4 linked regions of the Homo sapiens genome follow. The protein of the gene in region 1 purifies or fractionates together with the protein of each later gene. This does not show direct contact. Each region holds a gene or a part of one and is shown in the gene's direction. Other genes may lie near its edges.

Region 1 (4,661 bases):
GGCTAATTAAAAACAAATTTTTTTTAAATTTGTTATTTTTAGTAGAGATGAGGTCCTACTATGTTGCCCAGGCTGGTCTCGAACTCCTGAGCTCAAGTGATCTGCCTGTCTCAGCCTCCCAAAGTGCTAGGATTACAGGTGTGAGCCACTGTGCCTGGCCGGAAGTTTATTATTCTTTTACATAAAAATCCAGGTAGGCAATCCAAAGCTGGTTTGGCAGCTCAGCATTGTTGGAGAACCAGGCTTTGTGTATCTTGTTGCTCTGCTTCATTCAACATTCTGTGTGCATCTCATTGCCTCTTCCAGCTGCAGTCATTACACTTTCACTCCAGTTAGAGAGAAGGGAGGAAAAGGGAGCCAGGAGGATATGCCCTTTTCCTTTAATGGGGTATGTCAGAACTACACACGTTTCTGCTCATATCCCATTGTTAGAACCTGCTCACATGGCCATACCTGACTGCAAGAGAGGCCAGGAGATGTAATATGTGTCTGGGCAGCCATGCATCCAGCTAAAACTTCTATTTAGAAAGGTGGAACAAATAATGGAAGACAGCCGTCCCTATCTCCAACATTCATGATATATTTAAGGACTTTTCCCCCTCTTTTGGGGAAAACATGGACCTAACATTGTGATTGTTAATTCTTTTTGCTAAAGTAATTTTTATGTTATTGTGACAAAGGAAACATGATGTTCAATGAAATGAATAAAATGCTGGCAGAGTACCTTTGGGAAATCTTGTTCTGAAAAATGTGCCAGGTTGCTGCTGTTTATTGTTGCTTCTAAACAGTAGAGAAGGAGTTAGCTGCTTATTAAACCTGCCCCACATAAGGAATGGAATTATGGTTGGACCTCGCCACAATCATTTCTCTCCCAGGAGAGGCCAAAAATAGGATCAGAACACCACCCTGCTTTGAAGCAGACACTCTTGCTGTGTCTCAATTCCATGTCCAACTCCGTAAAGGTTATGGAAAACAGAAAAAGATCTCAGAAGCAGAGGGCTGAAATCGATGTGGTAATATCTGAATGTTATGTTGTCTTTGAGTAGAGAATTAAGGAACAGTGGAAAACCCTTGGGACTAGTCTTCACGTCTTTGTCTTGGTGCTTAAGAACCAGAATTAGGGTTTACTCAAAGAAAGGCAACTCTCTTGCTTTGGGAAGGAGATGAGGAACCCCAGTGTCTCCTTCAGTGGACTGGAAGCAAAGCAGAAGCTGTAGTAGGAATAGGCCTTCTGGAAGAGAGGTTACAATTATAGTTTATGGGTTTGGGGTTTGTTTCCTTTTGTTAAAATAAAACAATTAGAAATATATTCATTGTTTAATTATTTTTTTTTTGAGACCGAGTGTCACTCTGTCACCCAGGCTGGAGTACAGTGGCACAATCTCTGCTCACTTCATCCCCTGCCTCCCAGGTTCAAGCAATTCGTGCCTCAGCCCCCCAGGTAGCTGGGATTACAAGCATGCACCACCATGCCCAGCTAATTTTTGTGTTTTTAGTAGAGATGTGGTTTCACCATTTGGCCAGGATGATCTTGAACTCCTGACCTCAAGTGATCTGCCTGCCTTGGTCTCCCAAAGTGCTGGAATTACAGGCGTGAGCCACCATGCCTGGCTGAAAATGTATTTTATATTATTTTTATCAAAATGACATTTACAAAAACTGCTCCAATAGATATACTTGTAACTAGTTAAAAGTTTGAATTTGACCCTTAAGAAATGTGTAGAGCACTGTGAAAATGTATTTAAGAAAGTCTAAAATTTTATGTTTTTGTTTATAGCCTATACGGTTCAGACATCCGAGAGCATGACCCCAACTGCCACTTCAGAGACTTATTTGAAAGCTTTGGCCGTTTGCCATGGACCTCTGGACCACTATGATTTTCTGATCAAAGCTCATGAGCTAAAGGATGATGAACATCAAAGAAGAGTCATACAGTGTTTGCAGAAATTACACGAGGACCTTAAAGGATACAATATAGAGGCAGAAGGCCTTTTTTCAAAGGTGAGGCTTGTGTGATATGAAAGATTAAACAGTTAAAAGTGTAAGCATTTTCTAAAATGGATGCAATGCAGTAGGACACAATCATGAAACATCTTGAAAAATTTTCACCAGTTCCTTTACACAAATTCTGTTGGATCCCCATTCCTGGCCTTTTGATGTTCCATAGCTTTCTTTTGCCTTCAGGGGTTTGAATAGCTTCATATTTAGGTATTTAAAAAATGCAGTCCAGTCTAAATAAAAACTTCTATGGAAATTAAAGCTTTCCCTTTCCTCTAGCTCAGGCCTCATCCAGGGATCAGCAGTGGAAAAGGAGGAGTGATGTGTTCTTTCCCTTTTCTTCCTCCTTCTTTCTCTGTTTGCCTGACATCTCTAGGGTCAGAATGAGAAGAATGAAAGATTAGAGTGAAACAGCAGCCTTAAGTGACCAGTTAGTTACTGGGGCCTTTGTATGGTAGATGCTGACGTGCTAGCTCTTTGTTGAGGGTCTTATTGGTGGGTTCTTCAAGACTCCCATGGGGACCTCCACACTTCTCCAGTCTTTGACTAACCTCTTATGACTCTGGGGAAGCAACTCACAACCCTGCATTCTGCCGACACCGCCTTGCTCTTGCCCTTAGCCTTCTTGGGTGGGGTCCTTTCAGGACTTTTTTTTTTTTTTTTTGAGACAGAGTCTCGCTCTGTCACTTGGGCTGGAGTGCAGTGGCACGATATCTTGGCTCCTGGCAACCTTTGCCTCCTGGATTCAAGCGATCGTCCTGCCTCAGCCTCCCAAGTAACTGGGTAACAAGCGTGGACCACCACACTCAGCTAATTTTTGTATTTTTAGTAGAGACGGGGTTTCACCATGTTGGCCAGGCTGGTCTTGAACTCCTGACCTCAAGTGATCCACCTGTCTCGGCCACCCAAAGTGCTGGGATTACAGGTGTGAGCCACTGTGCCTGGCCTGGGACATTTCTTATTGGGTCATCTTTTATGGTGTCCGTGCAGGCCACAGGAAACATAACATCTCCTTTCGCCACCCCTTGCTGCATGGGCAGCCTCAGTCAGCCTCCTGTCCTCAGACTTCTGCAAGCAAGAAGCAGGCACTGGTTTCTGTCTTTGTCATGCATACCCCTTTCTCCTGGGGACTTATATCAAGTTCTCCCATGAACTCTTCCACACTCTGCTCTGGCAGCTGCTTGTGCATTTCCTTACCTAGGCAAGCATCCAGCTGGGGAGAGCGATGTCCATCTCAATTTATATTCAATCCTCATCTCTTTGGATGCTTCTCTTGGGAACCCCTCGTATTTGTTACGAGATATCTGAAGGGCACACCATGGCACTCTACCCAGCTAACTTTCTACCTTGATCACTTTCTTCAGTTTCACTTTGGTTTTAGGGCTGTTTTGCCTTTTTTTTTTTTTTAAACCTAATTCCTGCATGGATGTGACTAGTGTGTATTTATTTATTTATTTATAGATGGATTTTTGCTCTATTGCCCAGGCTAGAGGGCAGTGGTGTGATCTTGGCTCACTGCAACCTCCACCTCCCAGGTTCAAGCAGTCCTCCTGCTTCAGCCTCCTGAGTAGCTGGGATTACAGGCACACACCACCACACCTAGCTAATTTTTGTGCTTTTAGTAGAGATGGGGTTTCACCATGTTTGTCAGGCTGGTCTCGAACTCCTGACCTCAGGTGATCCGCCCACCTCGGCCTCCCAAAGTGCTGGGATTACAGGCATAAGCCACTGCACCTGACCTATTTATTTATTTGAGACAGAGTGTTACTCTGTCTCCCGGGCTGAAGTGCAGTAGTGTGATATCTTGGCTCACTGTAGCCTCCGCCTCCCAGGTTCAAACGATTCTCCTGCCTCCCAAATAGCTGGGATTACAGGCACCTGCCACCATGCCTGGCTAATTTTTGTATTTTTAGTAGAGATGGGGTTTTGCCATACTGGCCGGGCTTGTCTTGAACTCCTGATCTCAAATGATCCCCCTGCTTCGGCCTCCCAAAGTGCTGGGATTACAGACATGAGCCACTGTGCCTGGCCTATTTTTTTTTGGAGATACTGTCTCATTCTGTCACCCAGGTGGGGTGCAGTAGCACAATCATAGCTCACTAGTAGCCTTGAAGTCCTGGGCCCAAGTGATTCTCCTCCCGCAGCCCCCTGAGTAGGCTAGGGCTACAGGCATGCATCACCATGCTCCACTAATTTTTTAATTTTTTTGTAGAGACAGGACCTTACTCTGTTGCCAGGCTGGTCTTGAACTTCTGGTCTTAAGCAATCCTCCTGCCTCAGCCTCTAAAGCACTGGGATAATTGGTGTGAGTCACCACACTCAGCCTATGTCTTTCTTTAGCGTGAGTGGGAGCTTATTTTCCCTGGTCATCAGCTTTGAGCTTTTGTTGAAATTCTATGACAACAGGAAAACTCCTGTTCCTTATCTAATATAGAAGCCAATAGTCTCATCTTTAAGTTCTGGAGAAAACATTAATAGTAGTAAGAGTTAAAATATGGTCCAACCTAAGAAACTAGTTTTCCTTTAATTGACTTTCCCCACCCCCTGCCAAATACGCTTTTACTGTAACGTCTTTAGAAGAAAGGCACCATAGAACAACCATTAGTAGTACTTTATTTAAAAATGAATGAGGGGCCAGACGCAGTGGCTCACGCCTGTAATCC
Region 2 (4,661 bases), on another chromosome or scaffold:
GGCACACTCCAAAGGAGGAATGACCATCCATAAAGCCTTTTGTAGACTGAAAATCCCTCTGCAAAGTGGTCAGTGCTTCGTCTACTGGAAAGGGCCTCAGAAGCCTAAGAGAGAGCCCTTTGCAGCAGGCTGCCTGGGTTCCTGAGTCACTTGGAAGAGTTCAAAGCCTTTGCTGATGATAAATCCCCTTGCAGAGGGCAGAGTGGGCTACAGTGTCAAGGGTTTTGCAAATTGCCAAGACCTTGATTATAAAGTGTTCGCTAAGACAGGAACTTTTTCATGTTGCAGAAGACTTTTGCAATCTGCAAAGGAGCTGCTAAGACTTAGGGAGCTTTGGCAGAGGGTCTTCAGGGGTTACAGTTCCCTTTGTCAGCCAAGGAAAGCCCTTTGCTGAGGCCACTGTTCCTCATGCAGTGGGGCCCCAGCCCCAGGCACACACGTCAGAGCCTTTTAGAGAGAAAAGTGCCCAGTGAGTGTGCAGATTCCCACTAATGGCTTCTTGGCATTGCAGTCCCAAGGGTGCGCTTCGCCAATGATGACCGACACCGCCTGGCCTGCTGCTCACTCGACGGCAGCATCTCCCTGTGCCAGCTGGTGCCTGCCCCACCCACAGTGCTTCGCGTGCTACGGGGCCACACCCGTGGTGTCTCCGACTTCGCCTGGTCCCTCTCCAATGACATCCTCGTGTCCACCTCACTGGATGCCACCATGCGCATCTGGGCCTCTGAGGATGGTCGCTGCATCCGAGAGATCCCTGACCCCGATAGCGCTGAACTGCTCTGCTGCACCTTCCAGCCTGTCAACAACAACCTCACTGTGGTCAGGCTCCAGGACACCCACTCACCAAGGGCTGGTGGGCTGGGTCAGGAAGGCTATCTGAGGGAATCAGAGTATAAGGAGGGACAGCCAGGGGGGGCCTAGGACCCCCCCACCCCCCACCCAATCTCGTCAGAGCAGTCCTAGTGTGGTCAGACTTAAAAGGGAAGCAGATCAGAAGACGGGAGTGGGCCAGGCGCAGTGGCTCACGCCTGTAATCCCAGCACTTTGGGAGGCGGAGGCGGGCGGATCACGAGGTCAGGAGATTGAGACCATCCTGGCTAACACGGTGAAACCCCATCTCTACTAAAAATACAAAAAATTAGCCGGGCATGGTGGCGGGCGCCTATAGTCTCAGCTACTTGGGAGGCTGAGGCAGGAGAATGGTGTGAACCTGGGAGGTGGAGCTTGCAGTGAGCCGAGATGGCACCACTGGGCGACAGAGCGAGACTCCGCCCCCACCCCCCATAAAAAGGGGAATGCCGTTCTTGATCTGGGTTGGCCTTGCTGTGGTACACTCCAGGGAGCACGGGCCAGGGTCAGGGTTCTGGCTCTGGAGCCCCTTTGGTCCCATCAGCTACAGTCCTACAGTTTTCCAACTGCAGGGGCTACCTCTGAGGAGCAGGATGATGAGGCTGAGCCTCGTCTGGTCTGTCAGTGGCCCCACCGTGTCAGACTCCAGGGTAGATTGGTCAGAGAGCAGGGGAAGGACATTAGAAAGTCTGGTGTGGCCCGGGGTGTAGTGGGGTGAACTGCAGAGGAACAGACCAAGAGTGAGCTTGTGGGCCGGGATCCTCCCCGCATTAGCAGCAGCCCCACAAGTTCCAGAAAGGAGCAGCCAGGGAGCAGGGGAAAGCTGGGATCACAGGCCTAGGCAGGCCCTATGGTTCTCACACTGTAGGAGGACTGGCCAAGGGGCAGCATGATGGCTCTGAAGGCCCTTTAGTCCCGTAGGCAGGTGGCCTACTCTGGGCAGATTGCAAAAGGGGCTGGCTAGGGAGGTGGATTCATGCCTGGTCACCTTGTCTACCTGCCACAGCCCTATTGTGAATAGACTCTAATAGGGACCAGCCAGTCGCATCAACAGCAGCCCCACTGTGGTCAGACTCAAGGAGGGCCTGGCTGGAAGCAGGATGATGGTCTGTGCATTCTCCCCACAGGTGGGGAACGCCAAGCACAACGTGCATGTCATGAACATCTCCACAGGCAAGAAAGTGAAGGGGGGCTCCAGCAAGCTGACAGGCCGTGTCCTTGCTCTGTCCTTTGATGCCCCTGGCCGGCTGCTCTGGGCGGGTGATGACCGTGGCAGTGTCTTCTCTTTCCTCTTTGATATGGCCACAGGTAGGCAGACAGCAGGCCTGCATCTGGGTGCTCGCCCTCCAGCCCTCCCAGGGCACAGCCCTCACCCTCACCTTTGCCTTCCCTCCCTCTGCTGCTGCAGGGAAGCTGACCAAAGCCAAGCGTTTGGTGGTGCATGAGGGGAGCCCTGTGACCAGCATCTCAGCCCGGTCCTGGGTCAGCCGCGAGGCCCGGGATCCCTCACTGCTCATCAATGCTTGCCTCAACAAGTTGCTGCTCTACAGGTGGGTCCCCCATCAGGGCCTCCTGGAGACGGAGGACCTGCCTCCTCCAGCACACTGGGACAGTAGCTCATCTCCTCCATCAGGTTAATTTAATTGAGGGAGCAGTAGTAGCAGTAACAGTAATAGCAGTAGTGAGCGCGTTTACAGCCATCACTGTGGCCAGGCCCTGTTCGAAGCAGTTTCCACGTATCACCACATTCAATCCTTGCACCGACCTGTGAGGTAGGTGCTGTTATTATCTCCATTTTGCAGGTGAGCAAACTGAAGCATAAAATAGATTAGGGCTACTTAAAGCAGAGACCTGTTTTCCTTTCTTCCTTCCTTCCTTTTTTTTTTTTTTTTTTTGCGGGGAGTAGTGTGGGGGTTACTGTCCCCACTCACATCTGTCATGTTACCCAAATGCAGTTCTCAGCCTGGGCCACACATTGGAATGACCTGAAGAGCTTCAAAAACTCCTGTCTGGGCCCCTCTACAGGCCAGTAATTTCAGAAGCTTTGGGATGGGCCTGGGCATTGGTAGATTGAGAAATTCCCTAAGCAATGTCTGGCCAGTCCTGAAAACCACTGCCTAACAGGATGCTTTTTATTCTACCCCTTTATTTCTCTCCTCCTTTTTAAACAATTTCTGTATATATACTTAACAATTTTTTAATTTAAGCGTACCCTTAAGTTTGCCCATTTCCCACAGCCTCTCCTTTCTTCCTCCTGCCACCTCTGGCCTCCTCCTGCCACAGTAAAGCCCATTAATGATCCACATCTTTCCACATATCCTTCTCTTTCCACAAATCCTAGGCGTGTACATATATCCATGTATGTTTTTGTTTGTTTGTGAGACAGGGTTTTGCTGTTACCCAGATTGGAGTGCAGTGGCATGATCATGGCTCACTGCAACCTCCAACTCCTGGGCTCATGCGATTCTCCCACCTCAGCCTAAGTAGCTGAGATTACAGGCACACGCCACCATGCTCGGCCAACCTTTTTAATCTATTTTTTGTAGAGATGAGGTTTTGCTGTGTTACTCAGTCTGGTCTTAAACTCTTGGCCTCAAGTGATCCTTGTACCTTGGCCTCCCAAAGTGCTGGGATTACAGACGTGAGCCACCTTGCCTAGCTCCCACCACAGTTTTGAAAGAAAGACGTTTTAAAGAAATGGCCTTTTCCGGCCAGGCACAGTGGCGCACTCCTGTAATCTCAGCACTTTGGGAGGCCAAGGCGGGTGGATCACCTGAGGTCAGGAGTTCAAGACCAGCCTGGCCAACATGGTGAATCCCCGTCTCTACTAAAAATACAAAAATTAGCTGGGCATGGTGGCAGGCGCCTATAATCCCAGCTACTTGGGAGGCTGAGGCTGGAGAATTGCTTGAACTTGGGAGGCGGAGGTTGCAGCGAGGCGAGATCGTGCCATTGCACTCCAGCCTGGGTGACAGAGCCAGACTCCATCTCTTAAAAAAAGAAAGAAAAAAGAAATGGCCTTTCCTACATTTCGAGTTTCTCACCAGGCAATGCCTTGTGGAAACCCCCCCAGGTTACCTGTGGGGACAGTGTTTTATTCTCTCTAAGGGCTGTGCAGTTTTCCACAGTGTGGGCATACCATGGTGTGTTCATTTCCTCTCTTTGTGCTTATCTTAATACCAGGATCTTTTAGAGACCCTTACAAAGAAAAACTAGTGAATGAAACTGCAGAGGCTCCCATTTATATCAACAGAGACAGTTTCTGAACCATCAGTAACTCACACATCAGCCCCTACTTATAGTTTATGTAGTCATCTCAGAATTGGGTTTCATAAGCTGGGTGTGGTGTGTGCCTATAGGTAGTCCCGGCTACTCGGGAGACTGAGGCGGGAGGATCACTTGAGCCTAGGAGGTTGAGGCTGCAGTGAGCCGTGATCGCACCACTACACTCCAGCCTGGGTGACAGAGTGAGATCCTGTCTCAAAAACAAAAAAAAAAATATGGGTTTCATGAACCCTGTAAAGAACTTAGGCACAGGGGTGGGGACACAGGCCCACAACTTGTCTCCCTGCTAGGGCTGGGGCTGTGTTTTGACCCACTCTCTCATCCTCTCAGGGTGGTAGACAACGAGGGGACCCTGCAGCTGAAGAGAAGCTTCCCCATCGAGCAGAGCTCACATCCTGTGCGCAGCATCTTCTGTCCCCTCATGTCCTTCCGCCAGGGGGCCTGCGTGGGTGAGTCCTGTAGGGACAGGGGATCTGGGTGGCTGGGGAGGGGCAGGAACCAGGGCTGGTGCCAACCTGGCTCAGACA
Region 3 (5,093 bases), on another chromosome or scaffold:
AGCCTGGGAAACAAGAGCGAAACTCCATCTCAAAAAAAAAAAAAAAAAAAAAAGAATAAATAATGAACTAATTTAAAAATAAATAAATTTTATATTTAACCAGGGCAAGCTTAAGGTAAAAGATCAACTTTCACCTGTAACTTTGATGGAAATCCTCCATCTGAGGACACCATTAAGTGATTTCTGACGCTAAACTGGGGCTAATGGGGCTGCCTGGATCCCCTAAGAATTTTGCTTTAGAAGTACTACCTAGTCGGTCTTAAAGGTTTGTTATTTTACTTTTGGTCCCACTTCCCAATGTCAGTGTCAGAGCTGTCCTTGAGACTCCTCAAATTTGGGCAGGGCGTGGTAGCTCATGCCTGTAATCCCAGCACTTTGGGAGGTGGAGGCGGGTGGATCACCTGAGGTCAGGAGTTCGAGACCAGCCTAGCCAACATGGTGAAACCCTGTCTCTGCTAAAAATACAAATTAGCCGCGAGTGGTGGCGTGCACCTGTAGTCCCAGCTACTCAGGAGGCTGAGGCAGGAGAATTGCTTGAACTGGGGAGGCAGCAGTTGAAGTAAGCCGAGATCGTGCCACTGCACTCCAGCCTGGGCAACAAGAGTGAAACTCCGTCAAAACAAAACAACAACAAAAAACAAAAAAAACTCCTCAAATGTGAAGCTGAGAATTTTGAAGCTCATTTATAAATTCACACCACCCTTGTGGGAGGGGAGAGAAGGCAGATCACATCTCTGGGCTCAGTTGGGGCAACCATTCTAGGATGCTCAGAGAGACCTGCTCCTAGAAATCCAGAGTTTCCTAAAAGCTGGGATCAGAGTTCTGGCAAGAAGGCTGTAGCCTGGGCCTTGGCCCTAGACCACCAAAAAAGTGAATACAGGCTTAGGCAGTGTTCATAGAGGCCCAGCATCTGGAACAAGGGTGCTGCTGTAGTCTGTGCTGGTCAGACCACACAGGAAGAATTGTTTATTTTCCGGATACTATGATTTTAAAAGGATACAAGCAAATTGGTGTGTATCAAAAGGAAGCTGACCAGAATGTTGAAGGGACTTGGAAACCAAATCACTAGTTACTTTTCAGTGGTTTGGGCTCCAGGACTGGAGGGGGTTTAGGGTGGGGGGTAGAGGATGGTGTTAGGCAGCATAGATAATTAGAACTGTTTTCAGATATGCAAATGCTGTTTTGTGAAAACACACACACACGCGAACACACACAAAACAAGAAAAACTTGTACTTTAGGTAAGGCCAGAAAACAGAACTGGGACCCGTGGGATTTAAGCTCAACATGAAGAATCTGTAAACCATTATAGCTCTTCAAAAGTGGGCTAGACTTTGTAAGCACGCAAGGTTTAAACTGTTCAGGTAAAGACCAGGAAGCCCTCCAGCTGCTCTGTCCAGACCGAGGCCGGCTCTCCAAGTCCGCGCTGGGGACGATGGGAGGTGTGCACCTGCGACAGAACACAGGTACCGCCAGGTCCGGGTAGCGGTGGCTTTTCGCCGAGGTCCCCCGCCTCCGCATACTTCTTGCCCTCGCTGCTTCCCCGGCCGCCTCTCCTGGCCCCACTCCTCGCCCGGCGCTCGCCGCTACAACTCCCGCCTGGGCTGGCGCGAGACCCGCGAGCGCCGGAGTGGGCGCGCGGGATGCGCGCGGGCCGGCGCCCGGAGCTCTGGGCATGCTCAGTCGCGCGGGCAGGGCTCCGGGCGCGAGCTGGGCTCCTTCTGCACCACATTCAGCGGCTGCCAAGAGGAGCCGACGGGCGCTCGCAGGCTCAGCGCGCGCTGCCCGCGGCAGGACCCGGCCGCCTCCGCCGCCGCCGCCGCCCCTAAGCCTCCCGAAGCCATGGCCGGGCTCGGCCACCCCGCCGCCTTCGGCCGGGCCACCCACGCCGTGGTGCGGGCGCTACCCGAGTCGCTCGGCCAGCACGCGCTGAGAAGCGCCAAGGGCGAGGAGGTGGACGTCGCCCGCGCGGAACGGCAGCACCAGCTCTACGTGGGCGTGCTGGGCAGCAAGCTGGGGCTGCAGGTGGTGGAGCTGCCGGCCGACGAGAGCCTTCCGGACTGCGTCTTCGTGGAGGACGTGGCCGTGGTGTGCGAGGAGACGGCCCTCATCACCCGACCCGGGGCGCCGAGCCGGAGGAAGGAGGTAACTGCCGACTCGAGGGGCGCGGCCGGGGCGCGCGCCAGGCCCTCCCCCGCCGCCGGCCGCCGTGTTGCCTGGGGAGTCGCGCCATTGGCCCTCGGGCTAGTAGTTCACAACTTCCCGTCGGGGGGCGAGTGTGTGTGTGTGTGTGTGTGTCAGAGAGTCAGAGAGAAGTTCATTGTTCACACCTCCCGGCTGCCGGCAGCCTTCTGGAGGATCCGATTCAATGTGGTTGTACGGTCTCGGGCAGGTGGGTGGGCGGGGGATTCCGTCTCACGGGCATTTTTATTTGTGAAAATTAAACGGCAGCGACGACAGTGCAACTCTGAGTGTTTCCCAGGGAGCGAGGGCCGCGAGGGGTGCCGCTCCGGTAGGGCGGGTGGAGGCTGGGCGTCCCTCCAGGGGGCAGCGCCAGTCGTGACACCGAAGCCCCCAAGTCCTGCCTGGCGCTCGGAGCAGGACAAGCTGGATGAATTAACGGGGTGTCGGTGCCCACAGACCTGGGGCTTCTCAAGTTAGTTTTCAGTGGTGGCGAGTGAGTCCCAAAGAACGGGACTAGTAAGTGAATGAATGGAAGGAAAAGTGTTTTGTTGGTGAGCTGTGCTAAATGTGTGCATGAATGGGCTAGGTTTGAAAAGCTGTACTCTGTGCGGTGTTGGGTGTGTGTGCTAGCGAGCGTGTTTAATTAGAGATGGTTGTTTCACAAATTCCATAATTTTTATTCTCTATATTTTTAAACTCACAGCAATTAAGAGAGTTTTTCTGTTCTCAAGGGTTGTAACTACTTTGAAATACTGCAGCTTGTGAAATGGCTGATTGCTTTAAGTGCAATGTAGGTTAGTGGGGAGAGACAAATAGAGTGAGATTGGATTTTAAAATGCCATCTGGCCTGGGATTCTTCTCATTGCCAGTTAAGAGCCCAGGCTCAAGACTCCGTTGCTATTGGCATCCAGTGGCATTGCAAGAAGCTAGTGGTTTCTTTCATTTCTGGAGATTTAAGAATTTTTTTTCTATTTTGTCTGTATTCACTTCACATTGGAAATGCCTCATAGAGCTTATGATAAAATATGCTTATTCCTCACCTGCTCCACTACTTGGTTGATGGAATGCCACATGGTCTGAGAAAATAAGCATATTCTACTAATTTCTCATCGAGATAATCAGCTTTTATTTCACCCTCCATTAACAGAAAACCAAAAGAGTAACAGATCTCTGCTAGCCCTTTGATGTCTTTGCCACACCTCTCCATCTTTGAGTCTGTGAGATGTCCCACTCTTTTAAACTGATAAGGAATGTAATCCCATTTGAATACTTTCTAATGCGTTCTAGGCCAAATGGCAGAGCTATGGTTTGAACTTAAAAGAGCAAAATCGATTTCAAAACCCTTTCAAAATGGCACTCTTTTGATGAGAGTAGTCCAATTTCTTCTCAAGAGACTGTCACCATATTTATTCACCCATTTCATTTTATTCCTATAATAAAAGCTTCCAAGCTTTGGCCTCCCTGATACCTAAGTGAGCAGTGATCTTTTTCCCCTGCCTAGATTTTGAAGCATACATTTTAAATTGGTTTAATTCTGATATCAGCCTGGTGGCCCACTGCCAGAAGTCACATGGTGTAGTGGATAAAAACATTAGACTGAATCTCAGCTCTACCACTTTCTAATTCTGTGACCTTTAGGGAGTGTCTCTTGCCTCAGTTTTCGCATCTATACAGTGGACATAATAATACCTGTTTCACAAAGTTGTTGTAATAGATGTATTAATCTACCTGAAATTCACAGGACAGGACATTTGATGAATGTTGACTATTATTATTCACTTAACTATGGATCAGGGAAGATTTACTCCGTTAATAAGAAGTCAGCTATACACTGATGTAGTTAGTGACATCTCTCTACTATGTGATACTGCCTCTGGGTTTGGGTCTCCTGCTGGTGCCTGCCTTTGCATTGCACATGATCTGGGTCACCAGGGTAACAGGCCTCCCAGGCAGGGAGAGGAATATGGGCAGTCAGTGTTGGATGGGATGCTTCTGGAGGGCAGAGTCATGTAGGGCAATGCTTGTAGAAATCTCTCACGGCACCAGCTCACCGCCTTGGTAGGTGTTAATGCTTGTTGAGTGAGTGGATGAATGAATGAATGATGAATGAAATGCTAATACAAGAAGATAGTTACTTCAAGACCCTCTATGGATTGCTGTATATTTTTTTCATGTGATGTCTGCATTCCCAACTGTGAAAATCCACAGTAGCCAAGGAATTATTTTAAAATTATTGTCACTGATCTCTGCCTCTAGTCTTGTCAATTTTCCATTCCATTCCCACACTGTAGCCAAGCTGGTCTTTTAAAAACTCAGATCTGATCCTGTCCCTTCTCTGACTAAAATTCTCAAGGGGCCCCCACTGAGCTTAGATAAACCCATTGAGCTGGGCTGTGCTTGCCTTTCCAGCTTCAGCTTCACCTCTGATCCCACCCCAAGCATCCCCTGATCCATGGATCGAGCGAGGTTCTTTCACTGAAGCTCACCAGACTATTGCTTTTATTTTGTCCGGGTACTCTTCCTCTTTCCTCTCTTCCCTTTTATCTGTCTTAAGTTCTCAGCTTACTGTTATCACTATTATTAGCTAATATTTATTGGGTACTTGCCACTTGCCATACACCATACCAGATTTATGATGTGCATTTCATTAATACTCACATCAACTCTTTGAACTCAATACTATCATAATTCCTATTTTAAAGTTGGTGAAACTGAGGCCTGGAGAGATTAAATAAATTGGCCAGGGTTATAGAGTGTAACCTGTAAAACCAGGATTTGAACTCGGGTTTAGAGAACTCCAAAGCTCTAGTCCCACTTAGACATCACTTTTCCAAGCATGGAATTGGTTCTCCTTTTATGAGCTCCTAAAACGCTATAAACTTCCTTTTATATATATCATACCACGTGATAA
Region 4 (4,661 bases), on another chromosome or scaffold:
ATGAGTTTCGCTCTTGTTGCCCAGGCTGGAGTGCGATGGCGTGATCTTGGCTCACTGCAACCTCCGCCTCCCGGGTTCAAGCAGTTCTCTTGCCTCAGCCTCCCGAGTAGCTGGGATTACTGGTGTGTGCCACCACACCTGGCTAGTTTTTTTTTTTCTTTGTATTTTCAGTAGAGACAGGGTTTTGCCATGTTGGCCAGGGTGGTCTCAAACTCCTGACCTCAGGTGATCCATCTGCCTCAGCCTCCCAAAGTGCTGAGATTACAGACGTGAGCCACCACACCCAGCCCAAAGTGTTTTTTAAAGACGGAGTCTTGGCTGGGTGCAGTGGCACACGCTTGTAATCCCAGCACTTTGGGAGGCCAAGGTGGGTGGATCACTTGAGGTCGGGAGTTCGAGACCAGCCTGACCAAGATGGAGAAGCCCCGTTTCTACTGAAAATACAAAATTAGCTGGGCATGGTGGTGCATGCCTGTAATCTCAGCTACTGGGGAGGCTGAGGCAGGAGAATCACTTGAACTCAGGAGGTGGAGGTTGTGGTGAGCCGAGATTGTGCCATTGCCCTCCATCCTGGGCAACAAGAACGAAACTCTGTCTCAAAAAAAAAAAAAAAAAAAAAAAAAAGTCTTGGTCTGTCACCCAGGCTGGAGTACAGTGGCTCAATCTGTGCTCACTGCAACCTCTGCCTCCCGGTTCAAACGATTCTCCTGCCTCAGACTCCCAAGTAACTGGGATTACAGGCGTGTACCACCACGCCCAGCTAATTTTTTAACTTTCAGTAGAGATGGGATTTCACCATGTTGGCCAGGCTGGTCTCGAACTCTGGTCCTCAAGTAATCTGCCTGCCTTGGGCTCCCAAAGTGCTGGGATTATAAGGCATGAGCCACCACGCCCAGCCAACACCCAATTTATTTATTTATTTATTTATTTTTTGAGACGGAGTCTCGCTCTGTTTCCCAGGCTGGAATGCAGTGGCTAGATCTTGGCTCACTGCAACCTCTGCCTCCCGGGTTCAAGCAATTCTTGTGCCTCAGCCTCCCGAGTAGCTGGGACTACAGGTGTGTGCCAGTATGGCCGGTTAATTTTTGTATTTTTGGTAGAGATGGGGTTTCACCATGTTGGCCAGGCTTGTCTTGAACTCTTGACCTCAGGTGATCCGCCTGCCTCGGCCTCCCAAAGTGCTGGGATTGTAGGCATGAGCCACCATGCCTGGCCTAACACCCAAAATTTTTATTGGGAGCTGGTCACTTAGTACCGTCTGCTTAGCACATACCAGAATTCCAAACCCTGCAAAGCAAAGCCTGTGTTCAGCATAAACCACGTTGTTTGCATAGTCTATGCACAGGGAGCCACCCATATCAGCTAACTGTTGACTGGGAGCGAAGTTGGCCAAGGGTCAACATTGCAAGGAGACCTTTCTATAGATAGTAGTCTCTCAGGCCTTCAGTGTTAACTCTTTTCTGCACAGGGTGAAAAAAGAAATGACACTCCCTGCTCCAGAATCAGATCATAGTTATTCTATGGTACTGGATATGGAGGTTGTGGTTGGTGATTCAGGGATCTTCATTTTTGCTGTTTTTCTTTTCCAGAATGGCTTTGACTACTTACTAACATACAGTGACAATCCCCAAACGGTGTTTCCTCGCTACTGTGTTAGTTGGATGGTTTCCAGTGGTAAGTAAGGGCAAGTATACAGGGCCTGGAACCTGGGTTGAGCATTTTGTTTTTCTCTATTTCCTAATGGGGAAATAAAACGTCTCTTCTGGTTCTTCTTTTTTTTTTTTTTCTGAGACAGAGTTTTCACAACCCATGCTTTGGGAACACATTCCGGGAGGCAGCTCTTATTCACAGGCTAGTCAGGTTGTGATCTTTATAAGGAAGAACTAGTTCCCTACCATCAAAGAAATAGGGTCTTCTCATTTTGAGCCTACTGTTGGTTTGTATGTCAGCTTAACCTGATTCTCGTCTCCTGACAGGCATGCCAGATTTCCTGGAGAAGCTGCACATGGCCACTCTGAAAGCCAAGAATATGGAGATTAAAGTAAAGGACTACATCTCAGCTAAGCCTCTGGAAATGAGTAGTGAAGCCAAGGCCACCAGCCAGTCCTCTGAGCGAAAGAACGAGGGCAGCTGTGGCCCTGCTCGGATTGAGTATGCTTGACAGGCTTTGGGATAAGAAGGGACAAGGTGCTTCTAGCCCTGTCTCAGTCCGTTATCACTCTGCTGTAGAAGGGGGACATGCCACATGTATTAGAAGGCATCTGCTGTAACTTCCAGTGCAAGATAATTCAATAACTGATGTCCCATTTCATTCAGAGCCCTTATTGCTCTTATCAAAACAGAAGAAGGCTACATTTGTGGGAGTGTTGTCATATTCTCAGGCCAACTGTTTTGAAATTCGGTATCTCACTGAGCTAATCTGGAACAAACCTCTCACCTCAGGCCAGAAGGGGATGACCTCCATTTGCTTCTCTGAGTAGTTTCCTCTGCTGACATTCCAAATCCCACCATCGATTGTGCAGCGCTTTGGATTTCCTTCAGTTCTCCAGGTCCACCTGGAAAGTATAGTTGGCCAGTTGAGTCTCTCAAATGAGGGGCTACTGGGAGTGCTCTTGGTAACAATCATGATGTGAATGGGTGTGAACGATACTTGGCTATGTTAAGTGCCTTGTCCGCACCTTGCTTTTATCTCTAGAGACATGAAGTTATTATTAATTTTTTTTTTTTTTAAGTAGAGATGGAGTTTCACTCTGTTTCCCAGGCTGGTCTTGAACTCCTGGGCCATGCCTGGCCAGGGACATGAATTTGTACAAAGAAATTTCCCTCCCTGCCTGCACAATATCACCCATTGACTCACCTTATCCAAAGCAAGTTTCCTGTGAATCGGCCAGTTCTTCTATATTCATTGGATCATTGCCTCCTTCCTAACCTTCCCCATTTACCAAGAACACTGGGAGACTAATCCTTTTAGATAGTAGCTTTTTGATGCTCAAAACATCACATTTAAATTTAGTTTAAAAATTTTTTAACTTTTGTGTCAAATAGGAGTTGAGGAATTGAGCAGGATTCTACCCTAGTCCGATTGTATAGAAAACACCATTTTGATTCAGGTATTATTTTTCATATTTCAGGTTTGACTTGTTCTTTTCAGAAGGCTAAAGTCAGAGGAATGGGGGCTGGGCCACTCCCTTGGAGCTCTCAGATCTACAGACAAGCTGTGTGAATGCATAGATGTAATCTTGTCTCAAATACTAATACAGTGGAGATTTGGTTTATGTTACCATTAAGTTCCTCTAAAAAGTTTTTCTTCCTCTCTTCAGAGCCAAAATAAAAGTGAACTACACTGTTCAGATAAGGTCACAATCTGATGCTGTCAGTTTGACCGAGCTGGTTTTGCTTATGGTCATGCTGCAATTTGTTAGAATAATAGGGATCAAGTTTTAAATCCTCCTCCTTCCCTTTTTTCTGGAGTCTTGAGGGCCAGAGTTTTTGTTTTTGTTTTTGTTTTTGTTTTCCTGCTTGCTACTGTTTTGTGGTGTTGAAAAGTGGTTTAAACCTGAGACTAACTTAAACACTTCCTTGACCTTCTTGTTGCCTGTTCATTTTTGTGCCAAGGAAGTAGCTGCCCCAGTGTATGTCTTGCCTTCTCCGCGTCATTGTTGGAAGAGGAGAGATGCATCGAGCAGTCCCAGCTGCTTTTCATTTATTACTTCTTCTTTCCAGGACCTGACAGAAGTCAGGGAAGAGTCCCTGGGTTATGTCCAAACTTAGCACCTGCAATTGTTGGGATGTGGATGGATGTGTGCATAAGAGAGAGAGAGAATATGTGTGTGTGTGTGTGCGTCTGCGAGCGCACACACATGCACAAGTGCGAAGGAGTTGCGGTTGCTCCATGTTCTGACTTAGGGCAATTTGATTCTGCACTTGGGGTCTGTCTGTACAGTTACTCATGTCATTGTAATGATTTCACTCCTAACTGTGACATTTTTATCAAATGTGTGAATAAATACATAAAGATTGGTACAAAAAAAAGTGTTTGTCTTTGGACAAATGGTGGTGGAAAAATCTTGCATATTGGACTTACCATTTCTTTCTGATCACAAAGTTGAAAAGAATTTTACTCTGAGAGTTGGGAGGTGGAAGTGGCAGGGCTTGTTCATTCTTGGTAGATAGTGGCTGACACAGTTTGCCTAGACCACGAGCCCTTTCCAAGTGACCTGCTTGGCAACTGAAAATAAACCACCTATGTCCACTTCCCTAGCTTGATATACTGACCCATATCCTTTCCCTTTAAAAAAAGATCACTTTGGAGGGAGCAGTGCTAGAGCTTAGCAGACGGTAGAAATCAGGAGGGACAGAAGCAGGCCTGAGGTCTAGGGTTGAGGTTGAGGAGAGGGTCAAGTCAGCGCTCTTGGCGGAGGGGCAGTCCTGCTGGCATGCTCTGAGCATAACATGAGTTTATGTGTAATTTTGCCTGTGGGAAGCACTAGGTGAACACAAAAGCACACCCAGTTGAACTGAGCTGCATAGGAACACACAAGGCACACGTCCCTGTGTGGTGTACCATCTGATTCCAGAGAACCGCACGCCCCATCTCATGCTTGCAAGCCGCAGCCCTTCCATCGGCCATCCTGGCTCTGCCTCACACTCTGCTCTTTATT

Evidence for each region.
Region 2: the proteins of AFG1L (region 1) and WDR13 fractionate together in Homo sapiens (co-fractionation; one large-scale study listed by BioGRID). This does not show direct contact.
Region 3: the proteins of AFG1L (region 1) and DDAH1 purify together in Homo sapiens (affinity purification with mass spectrometry, with the first as the bait; one large-scale study listed by BioGRID). This does not show direct contact.
Region 4: the proteins of AFG1L (region 1) and STARD7 purify together in Homo sapiens (co-immunoprecipitation; one large-scale study listed by IntAct). This does not show direct contact.

The regions. Positions count from the first base shown.
Region 1 is NC_000006.12:108,322,048-108,326,708, forward strand, and holds part of AFG1L (AFG1-like ATPase), read left to right. Parts: intron 1-1,777; coding exon 1,778-2,001; intron 2,002-4,661. UniProt on the Homo sapiens protein: Putative mitochondrial ATPase. Plays a role in mitochondrial morphology and mitochondrial protein metabolism.
Region 2 is NC_000023.11:48,599,808-48,604,468, forward strand, and holds part of WDR13 (WD repeat-containing protein 13), read left to right. Parts: intron 1-511; coding exon 512-819; intron 820-1,976; coding exon 1,977-2,157; intron 2,158-2,257; coding exon 2,258-2,399; intron 2,400-4,464; coding exon 4,465-4,583; intron 4,584-4,661.
Region 3 is NC_000001.11:85,461,793-85,466,885, reverse strand, and holds the start of DDAH1 (N(G),N(G)-dimethylarginine dimethylaminohydrolase 1), read left to right. Parts: upstream 1-1,726; 5' UTR 1,727-1,840; coding exon 1,841-2,143; intron 2,144-2,286; exon of another isoform or gene 2,287-2,366; coding exon of another isoform or gene 2,367-2,390; intron 2,391-5,093. UniProt on the Homo sapiens protein: Hydrolyzes N(G),N(G)-dimethyl-L-arginine (ADMA) and N(G)-monomethyl-L-arginine (MMA) which act as inhibitors of NOS. Has therefore a role in the regulation of nitric oxide generation.
Region 4 is NC_000002.12:96,184,230-96,188,890, reverse strand, and holds the end of STARD7 (stAR-related lipid transfer protein 7, mitochondrial isoform 1 precursor), read left to right. Parts: intron 1-1,589; coding exon 1,590-1,674; intron 1,675-1,976; coding exon 1,977-2,161; 3' UTR 2,162-4,032; downstream 4,033-4,661. UniProt on the Homo sapiens protein: May play a protective role in mucosal tissues by preventing exaggerated allergic responses.